Regions from separate parts of the Homo sapiens genome. Here region 1 is linked to region 2. The links come from fine-mapping of genetic effects on gene expression. A gene starts in region 2. The other region holds a variant in brackets. All regions are shown on one strand. Distances are between the middles of the regions.

Evidence for each region. PIP is the estimated chance that this variant, and not a neighbour inherited with it, causes the effect.
Region 1: its variant is the best candidate, but not a certain one, in a credible set for the expression of ALMS1 in blood mononuclear cells (TOPMed, PIP 0.83).

The regions. Positions count from the first base shown.
Region 1 is chr2:73,563,133-73,568,519 of GRCh38, forward strand. The region is part of intron 15 of ALMS1 (ALMS1 centrosome and basal body associated protein); the gene reads left to right. Among named protein-coding and RNA genes, the nearest start is that of NAT8, 77 kb to the right of the region's middle. The variant A/G (reference allele first, on the strand shown) is at 3,166.
Region 2 is chr2:73,383,735-73,389,121 of GRCh38, forward strand. ALMS1 (ALMS1 centrosome and basal body associated protein) reads left to right here and starts at 2,102. Exons shown (of 23, transcript NM_001378454.1): 1 at 2,102-2,458. The coding sequence starts at 2,135. LOC105374804 (a long non-coding RNA gene) reads right to left here and starts at 1,947. Exons shown (of 4, transcript XR_007087053.1): 1 at 1,719-1,947. RefSeq lists enhancers at 1,861-2,610, 2,651-2,890 and silencers at 1,861-2,260, 2,421-2,590.

The DNA of each region.
Region 1 (5,387 bases), 180 kb after region 2:
AAACCCAGTTCCATGCTATATAACAAACATATCAAAAGTAAAATTACTGAGAAAGGTGGAAAGCAAAAAGAAAACTTAGAGATGTATCAAAAAGAAATTTGGGGACATTAATATAGATGAGGTTAAATTCACCAAAAGTTTTGCAGGAATTGAAGAGGTATATTTTTATACTGATTTGCAATCCACAATGAGGATATTTTGCATAAATCTTTAAACATCAAATAACTTAGCATAAAAAATTCATAAAACGAAAACCAGGAGCTCAATCAATAAGGAAATTTATGTTGCCTTAAAAAAGAATGAAGGAGGGCAGGGTGCGGTGGCTCACGCCTGTAATTCCAACACTTTGGGAGGCTGAGGCGGGCGGATTAAGAGGTCAGGAGATCAAGACCATTCTGGCTAACATGGTGGAACCCCGTCTCTACTAAAAATACAAAAAAATTAGCCGGGCGTGGTGGCAGGCGCCTGTAGTCCCAGCTACTCAGGAGGCTGAGGCAGGAGAATGGCATGAACCTGGGCGGCAGAGCTTGCAGTGAGCCGAGATCACGCCACTGCACTCCAGCCTGGGTGACAGAGCGAGACTCCATCTCAAAAAAAAAAAAAAAAAATAAAAATAAAAAATGAAGGTATGGAATTATATGAAAACAACTCTTAGGATGGATTGTGAGGCAAAAGGTGCTTAACAGGGGGATTGGACGGTGGAATTTGCTTGTAGGGAGAAAAAAAATAAAACAGACAACCCTAGGAAATCTTCAAAGAGAAATGGACAAATACAAAATAATACTGGGGAGCTTGAACACACATAATTAGCTTATGACAGATCGTGGAGATGAAAATTTTTTTTGTAAGTGAAGTTTAAAAACACCTGGGAATAATACAAGTAATGAGGTTGATGTGGGGTGTGTGTGGCTGTGTGTGTGTGTCTGTGTGTGTGCATGCATGCATAAGCCTATATGGGTTAAACTTAAAAAAAAAACCCTTTCCAAAAGACCATAGAAAATTTTTTCATACAGCTTTATTCAGATATAATTTACCCATTTAAAATATGTAAGGCTGGGCACAGTGGCTCATGTCTATAATCCCAGCACTTTGGGAAGCTAGGGTGGGTGGATCACTTGAGATCAGGAGTTCAAGACCAGCATGGTCAACATGGCGAAACCCCGTCTCTACTGAAAATACAAAATATAGCCGGGCATGGCGGTGCATGCCGATAATCCCAGCTATTCAGGAGGCTGAGGCAGGAGAATCACTTGAACCTGGGAGGCAGAGGCGACAGTGAGCCAAGATCGCGCCACTGCACTTCAGTCCAAACGACAGAGCAAGACTCCGTCTCAAAAAAAAAAAAAAAAAAAAAATCAAACATGTAATTCAATGATTTTTACTGTATTCACAGATAAGTGCAATCAACCATCACCATAATCAATTTTAGAATATTTTCTTCACTTCAAAAAAGAAACCCTGAGACTTAAGCAAATACTGATCCACTTTTTGTCTCAGTAGATTTCCCTATTCTGGACTTTCATACAAATGGGACCATTAAGTTGGGGACATAACATGAAACTTAGGGCCCGCCCATAATGAAAAATGTTAAAGGAAATTCCCATGTAAAGTAGGCCTCCAGTGGGCTACACTCTTACTATAAGAATAAAAGATAAACACGTCCATGTAGAAGGGGACAGTAAGAAAACTGCCTGTTTTAACCTTGATAATGAGTTTGGGGAAAGAAGACAAAATTTATCCTCAGAATTTATAACCACAAACTAGTGTTCACACAGATTTACAGTCATTAATTTTGTACTGGTATAATTTATTAGTGCAGTAAACTACAGGTGTGTTCTGAAAAATCTCAAGCCGAGAATTTAACAATGGCAGTAGGTTGGTATTGCAGACTCACATGCCTTTCGGATGCAAATGCACATCTCTCTGAAGAAACTTCAACCCAGACCTAAAATACCCTAAATTCCCTAAAATACCAAGCTCATAGTCAAGGCACTATTAGTAGAAACAGTATCAACAACAAGAAACAGAAATGAGACCCACAATTACAAATGTCCAGGATTCCTTGGCAAAATGCCTGATTCTCAGACTGGGACAGGAGATATATTAGATGAGCCTGAACCCTTTTGTGGTGCCAGAAAGTAAAGAAAAAAAAATGCACAGGGATGGGGAATATGTCAATGGAACACAGGGACCAAGTAAAAAACTTCCCAGTGGCTAAAGCTGGGACAGTTTCTGTAGTATAGCAATAGTATTAGATCATAACCAAAGTATAAAATAAATACCTATGAGTCTGTACTGATAAAAGTAAATGATTTAATAAATAAATGGGGGGAAATGACAAATCTGTGCAGAATTCTAAATAATGTATGTAGATATTCCACCATCAGGGAGGTGGAACATAACTCCCACTCTTAACTAATGGGTTGCACATAGTAACTTAACTTCCTTCCAAAGAGTGTATTTTTATAGGAAGGGGGAAAAAGAATAACTATATAGTGAAGAATTCTGGCAAACACTGGCTCAGCCGGGTCATCAAGATCATCATCAATAGTGGTAAGTCATGTTGATAGTATGTACCCTTAATATGTAATGAGAAATATATTTTAACTTTGAAATCTTCTTCCCAAAAACCCATAACCCCAGTCTAATGAGAAAAACATGAGACAAACTCAAATGAAGGACATTTATACTTGACCAGTACTTCTCAAAACTGTCAGAGTCATGAAAAACAAGGGATGCCTAAGAAATTCTCACAGACCTAAGAGAAGCCTAAGGAGACATGATAATTAAATGTAATGTGGTGTCTTGGATAGAATCCTGGAACAGAAAAAGAACAGTATGTACAAAACAAGGCAACACAAAGTATGGCCTTTGGTTAATAATAATGTAACTTTATTGATTGATTCATGGTAATATATTGTATTAATGTAAGGTGTTAATAGGGGAAACTGGGTATGGGGTATAGGTAATCATCTGTACTGTTGTCACCGTTTTTCTGTAAATCCAAATTATTCTAAAATTAAAAGTTTATTTTAAAAAATTAATGCATTCTGACATTAAAACAGGTGGATAGATAAATGATAAATAAGAAATTTCATCTTCTTAAAGAAAACACTTTACAGCTTCTCTTTGGCATAACCAATTTGCTGGCGTTACTGCTCTTGC[A/G]CTTTGGGGCCATTACTAACTACAGTTAGGGTTACTTGAACACAGGCACTGCAGTATCATGACAGTCACCCTGATAACCCAGACAGCTATGAAGTGCCTAAGGGGCAGGTAGTGTAAATGTACGGACATGCTGGATAAAGGGAGGATTCACATCCTAGGGTGGGATGGAGCAGGATGACAAGAGATTTCATCATACTACTCACAACGACGTGCAATTTAAAAATCATGAATTGTTTCTGGAATTTTCCATTAAATATTTTTGGACCATGGTTGACTATGGGTAAATGAAACCTTAGAAAGCAAAACCACAGATAAGGGGGACTACTGTATTCACACCTAATGTGTGGGGTTTCCCCTCACGTTAAGCAGTTCTGACACTGACAACCTGTACTTAGCACAGTCCCCACAGGTTATGGGTTCAGTCCCACAAGACTGCCCACCACTTCAGATACCAATTGCATGGCTTGGCCTCCTATACTTCTGACCAACTAGCTCCAAATTGGGGTGGTGGGGAGAATCCCATGACCCCCTCCTCAGGTTTGGTAATTTGCTCGAATGGCTCAGAAAACTTAGGGAACATTTTCTTACATTTCCTGATTTTTTATGAAGGATATTTCAAAGGATACGCACGAACAACCAAATGAAGAGATACATGGGCAAGGTATAGGGAAGGTGCACAGAGCTTCCATGTCCTCTCTGGGCCTGCCATCCTCCCAGCTTCTCCTGTGTTCACCAGATGTGAAGCTCTTCAAACTCTGTCTGTTAGGGTTTTTATGGAGGTGCCATTACATAGGCAATATTGATTAAATCATTGGCCATTGGTGATTGGCTCAACCTGCAGTCCCTGTCCCCTCCCCAGAGATCAGGGGTTGGGGCTGGAAGTTCCAGCCCTCTAAACATATGGTTGTTCCCTTGGTAAACAGGCCCCCCATCCTAAGGGGCTTTCCAAAATTCACCTCATTAATGTAAACTCAAGTGCAATCAGAAGTGACTTGTTTTGAATAACAGACCCTCCTTGAACCTTTATCACTCGCTCTTGAACTGTTTCAAGAACCAAGTACAAAAACCAAATGTCATAATAAAAGATGCCCCTATTGCTGTTATCCCGTTTTCCTAAATGGAAATTACAAGAGTTTTAGTAGTTCTGGCCAGGAGCTAGGGTTAAGGCAAAATATGTATTTATTATATCACAGTATTACAATTTACAGGGTATTTAAATGAATTATACAGTGATAATAGTAAAAGGATGCTACTGGGACAAGAGACTGATACATCAGTGAAAATACTTAAATACAGTGGGCACTTACTCTATGATAAAGGTGCCATTTCAGATCCATTTGTAAAAAGATGGATTACTCAACAAATAATGCCAAGATGCTTTGCTAGCCATTTAGAGTATCGTGAGAATTTTAAGTTGTAGCCCTACTTTACTCCTGTCACCAAAATGCAAGTATAAAAGATCCAAGTATAAAAAAGAGATCATAAAAGTTCTGGTTTTCTGACTTTTCTAATAAATTTGAGCAGAAGAAGGCTTTCAAGGTCTGACAAAATCTTGGAGTCATAAAGCCAAAGATTTGATAAATGTATATATTAAAATTAAAGTGTCTTCATGGTAGAAAATATCATAATGCAAAATCAATTTATAAATGAATAATGGGAAAACAATTTTAAAAAATTGAGAAACTGAGAAAAGGGGCTAATTTTCTTACTATGCAAAGAGCTTTTTACAAATCAATGACAGCCTAAAAGGAAAACAAAGGACCTGAACAAAAAGCTTATAGTAAAAGAAATGCAAATGGCCATTAAAGATATGAAGAAATACTTAACTGTCTTAATAAAGAATGTACTAAGCCACAAATTTTGTTTTACCTGTCACAATAGCACAGATGAAAAGATTTGATTATCCTTAGTATTGTTGAGTACATGGGGAAACATTCATGTACTCTTATAAGACTATTATTAGAAGTGCAAATTTGTTGCAACATTTTTGAAAGTGTGGAACAATTGGATGATATCTAACTAATGTTGAAATAAATATTCCCTTTTCACCCAGACTTCCATTTAAGGGAATAACAGATACACAGATAAAGTTGTACCTAGAAAAATAAAATGAAGCTACACATAAACGCACAAACAAATGTTCACTGCAGCATGCTTTGGAAGAATAAACTATTGGAAACAACCTAAATATTTAGTTAAATTTTGGTAAAGTAAATCAGTTT
Region 2 (5,387 bases):
GCCCATTTCTGCAGTAAGCAGCTTCTGGGGAAGTCCCAGGAATCTTCAGTTTGAGGTCTTCCAATAGTATGGGATGTCCGGTAGCCAGGAGAAAATGATGCATGTCTTTTTAGTTGTGTAATATGAATCCAGGGATCAATGTCTTCTAGTTTTACTCCTGGGTCAGTTGTTGATAGTACCTGACATTTTTTTTTCTTGCATTGAGGCTCAAGGGAAATTGTTTTCTAATGCTTTTTCAGAAGACCAAATCTCTAACTTCAGAAGCTGCTTAGGTGGGTGCTTTGAGAATGCAGCTTCCATCTGTTGTTGATAAAGCAGGAGTTAATCTTAGAAGTCTCCTGCAGCAATTAGTGATAACAGCTTATATTAGTAGCATCTAGTATTGGAAGTAATTCACAAATACATGAGGAAGCCTGTTATTAACTCAGAAGGAGATAACTTATGGGCCTTAGAATGGACTGACCTTATTGCCATCAAGGCAAATAGAAGTACTTTGGGCTTTGGAAGTTAGATGGAAGTTAGAGAACTTTGAAAGCTATTTTTTAGAATTCTATTAGTTCTCTTTATCTTTCCTGAAATTTGTGGATGCAAAAAGATAGCGGAGTTTCTAAAAAGGTAAAGCTTTACAGTTATTTAATATCAGTGAAATGTGTGTCCTCTTACTGGAGATAAACATTGAGATTTCACATTCAGGAATACAAAATTAATAAATTCTTTTCTACTATTACAGTAATAGGTCTCCGGCAAGGAGAACCCCTAAACCCCTTAAGAATAAATAACCCTAATGTACTCATAGTCCATTTAGAGGTGTTCAACAGAACTCCAAGACTGGGCTCCAGTTCATGTTCTACCCTTAAAGTTTTGCCAGGATTGGGTCATTGACAGGTAGGCAGGACATACATCCTTGGCAATAACCCTAAAATTGCCCCACCAACATTGGTTCAGCATCATTATCAATGTATCTCTACTATTGTGGGTAATACCATGAAGACTTTTTGCTGGACTCCACTTTAATTATGGCTATTTCCTTTGGTAACAGTGAAGCATCTCAAGATTATAATTATTATTTAAAATTTTAATTTAAAAATTTTCCCCATAGGTTATTGGGGGTACAGGTGGTGTCTGGTTACATGGCATCTTAAGATACTTTAATTTGCCATTCATTTCGTAGAGGTTCCTGAAGCGGTCAGGAAATCTTTGTTTTTAAAGCACTCCAAAGTCATTGACGAACCACCAAAACATATGTACTATCAGTATAAATATTTGCTCTGTTATCCTTTAACAGCTGGTTGGTCTAGGCCAGGGCAATTCCTACACTAACAGAGGACCTGGGATGGCATACTGAGTCAGCCACTTACTAGGTAAGAAACTTTGGGCAAATTAATTTTTTTAGCCTCAGATTCTTCATACATGAAATAGTAATACTTGTCTCACAGAACCGTGAGCATCTAATGAGTTATTGTACAATAACCAACCTATCACTAAGTCCTTCACATTGATTATTTCCTTTAATTATCACACCCATCCTATGCGATGGCCTATTATCATCGTTTTATAAACACAAAGTCACACCACTTTAAGTGGTGATGCCAGGATTCAAACTCCGATCTTTCTGATGCCAGTGCCCAGTTCTTAATCCCTCTAACAACCCGTGACACTTTTCCACGGTTAGGTTCAAGCGCCCACCATACAGCTTGACACTTTAGGAGATACTCAACCTTTAAAACTTTATAATTTGCATGTGTGATTATAACGGGTACGTCCTAGAGTTTGATCTCTTCTCTGTGCAGGGGCGAAACTCGACCCCAGCCGAGAACTACACTGTCCTTGCGCGGGGCCCTCTGCGCCCCGGAAGGCGCCCAGTCCCGGTTTATTGTGAGCTTACAGTACAGTTCGCAAGGTCCCGGCCGGTGACGGCGGCGAGGCGGCAACGTCGCCTGTAGCAAACCTCCGCCCTAAGGCGTTCCCGCCGGGCCTCGCGCGGCGTCCCTAGCAACGCGCGCGCGGTCTTCCGGCCCCGCCCAGGCGGGCGGCACTGCGCCTAAGCTGGGCCACAACCGCCAGTCAGGGCTCTCCCCTTCCCCTCCCTCCCCCCCTCCTCCTCCTCCTCTGCCGCCCAGAGCGAGACACCAACATGGAGCCCGAGGATCTGCCATGGCCGGGCGAGCTGGAGGAGGAGGAGGAGGAGGAGGAGGAGGAGGAGGAGGAAGAGGAGGAGGCTGCAGCGGCGGCGGCGGCGAACGTGGACGACGTAGTGGTCGTGGAGGAGGTGGAGGAAGAGGCGGGGCGGGAGTTGGACTCCGACTCTCACTACGGGCCCCAGCATCTGGAAAGTATAGACGACGAGGAGGACGAGGAGGCCAAGGCCTGGCTGCAGGCGCACCCCGGCAGGATTTTGCCTCCGCTGTCGCCCCCGCAGCACCGCTACTCGGAGGGCGAGCGGACCTCCCTGGAGAAGGTGAGGCGGGCCGGGGAGGGGTGTGGAGCCGCGGCGAGTTGGGGGTGGAGGCTGGGCCCCGAGCGCTCCGCCCGCCCGCAGGTCACGCCGCCTGACGGAGAAAACGCGCGCAGCTGAGGCTAGTAGGCGGCCCAGACTCCAGCCCAGGTGCCGGCCGGCTGCTCCGCGTCTCCCAGGCTTTGTGGCAAAGACTTCTCGTTTCCTCCCCCTCGGTGGGTCCTGGGCCTTTTGAACTCCCGTAGACGTTCAGGGGAGCCTGCATTCCCCGTGAGAAACGCTGAGAGAGGACCACGGGTGTGTCGAGCCTTGAAGGAGGGAAAAGGCGGTGTAGGACCGGAGCGAGTGGTTGCCTGGGGAGCATCTTGTTGGGGAGACAGTGAACAGATGAGCTTGACTGAATTGCAGGACTCCCCTGAGGGAGTAATGTGGATAATGTACACCGCGCGATCACTTAGTCTGGAGAGGCTCCCCGCGGGTTTTCCTCCCCTGGACCATCATTTGTAGCAATAAAGGGGTTCCCCAGCCGATAGGAGGGGCTTGGAATGCAGGAGGCTTGTGATGCGGCTCCAAACAGTCTGCAAAACTACAAAGCACAGATAATACACAATGGAGAAAGCCGATTTCATGGTAGACCCCCGAAGATCATTTTGAAAATAACTCTCCATTTAATTTGCTGCCCTTACCCCCCTTTTTTTAACTTACTGCTTTTCGAGGAGCAAGACCTGCCCTGCTCAGTACAGTAGCCACTGGCCACGTGTGGCTTTTTACATCTTAAAGAGAAAACTATTATAGTTTTGAGTAAGAGTTAAAAATAAATTAAATGAAAAATTCCATGCGTCTGTTCTTACCGGTTTTCAAGTGCTCAGCAGCCACACTAGGCTAGTGGCTACCATGTTGGACAGAGCAGATAATGGAACAGTTCCATCATCACAGACAGTGAAGGTGTAGAGTTTTGTCACTAATGAGCAGTAGTTGTTGTTTTGTCTGGTGAATATTCCAGGGGGTACTTAATTCATTGAACATGTATTATTAGAATTCACCATGTGCCACACATTGTGCTGGGTGCTAAGGAAAGCTTGGTGAACCCAAACATTTTTGGTCTCTGCCTTCCTTGTGTTCATGGTCTAGACAGGGAGGCAGACAGATTTCAGATGATCACATAAAGTGAAACTAATATATGTGCTAATATTCTATGAAAGCATAAAGTAAGATAATCTGGCCTTGTCAGTGAAGTTGGGAAAGCCTTCTTGAGGAGGTTATGATAGAGCTGATATCTGAAGACAGTTTAAGGTTAATCAGGCAAAGGGGAGGGAAAGAGCCGTCTAGCTGAGGGAAAAACACATGAAAAGGTACTGTTGATGAGAGAGAGCATGGCATTTTCCAGGACCCAGAAGCCAACGTGGTTTGAGCACAGACTGCAAGGCTTTGTGTGCTATGCCAAGGATTTAGGGGCTTTATCTCTGGAGCTTTGGGGAGTTGAAGAAAATATTTGAAACGAGGGGATGTATGATAAGTTAGGTGTTTCAGAAAGGTCAGGTGTATAGCAGAGTGTGGAACAGCTGTGATAGCAAGGTGGGATGGGGAGCAGTAGCCATAGGTCAAGGGCATAAATTAGGAGACCATTGCAGCATTGCCCGGCAAAAGATGATGAAAGTTTGGAATAGGGAAGTGTTGGTGGATACAGGGAAAAGTGGACTGATTTGAGAGATATTTAAGAGGCAAAATCATCATACTTAATAACGGATGGGATGTGAAAGGTGAAGTAGCCAGGTGTTAGGTTATTGTTTGAATGGTTGTGCCAATATTAAGATATGGCCAGATTTATGGTGGAGGTGGTGGCTGTGAGTGGGTGGTGGAATTGGTTGGGTGAGTCTTAAGATTATGAGTTTGGTTTTGAAGATTGAAGGAGAAGGCTGGGCTAGAGATTTCAAGTTGTAAGTCATTTACATAGAGACCATAATTAAAGCCACACTTGTTGACTAGGTCTTCTAACTTTTATTTTGTCCTGTGACTTCTTGCTTGAATAACTATTAATATTCAAACTTTATCTTGAAGCCTAGAGGAGGAGTTTTTTAAACAAAATTTTAATTTAATTTTAGATTTGGGGGTACATATGCACGTAATTAACATGGATATATTGCATAATGGTGAGGTTTGGGCTTCTAGTGAACCTCTCACCCAAATAATATACCTTTGTACGTGATAGTGTAACATTGTACTTGATAGGTAATTTTTCAGCCCTTCTCTCCTCCTTCTGGAGCCCCCAGTGTCTGTTTATTTCCATCTTTATGTCTGTGGGTACTTATTGTACCCATTTATCTTTATGCCTCTGTGTACCCATTGTACCCACTTGTCTTACCAGTGAGAGCATGTGGTATTTGATTTTCTGTTTCTGAATTGTTTCACTTGATAAATAGCCTCCAGGCTCCATCCATGTTGCTGCAAAGGACAGGATTTCATTCTGTTTATAGCTGCATAATATTCCACAATGTATATTAATACATACTACATTTTCTTTACCCATTCAGTTGTTGATGGACACTTAGGTTGATTTCATGACTTTGCTATTGTGAACGGTGCTGTGATAAACATATGAGCACAGATTTTTTTCTTTTTTTTTAATGGCGTCTAGCTGGTGTAGAACACCTGGGCTCAAGTGATACTCCGCCTTGGCTTCCCAAAGTGCTGGGATTACAGGTGTGAGCCAGTGTGCCTGGCTCAGATGTCTTTTTGATGAAATGATTTAATTTCCTTTGGAGAGATACCCAGTAGTAGGATTGCTGGGTCAAATGGTAGTTCTGTTTTGAGTTCTTCAAGAAATCTCCATACTGCTTTCCATAGGAGTTGAACAATTTACATTCCCAACAACAGTGTATACGTGTTCCCTTTTCTTCTCATCCTTGCCAACATCTGTTTTTTGACTTTTTAA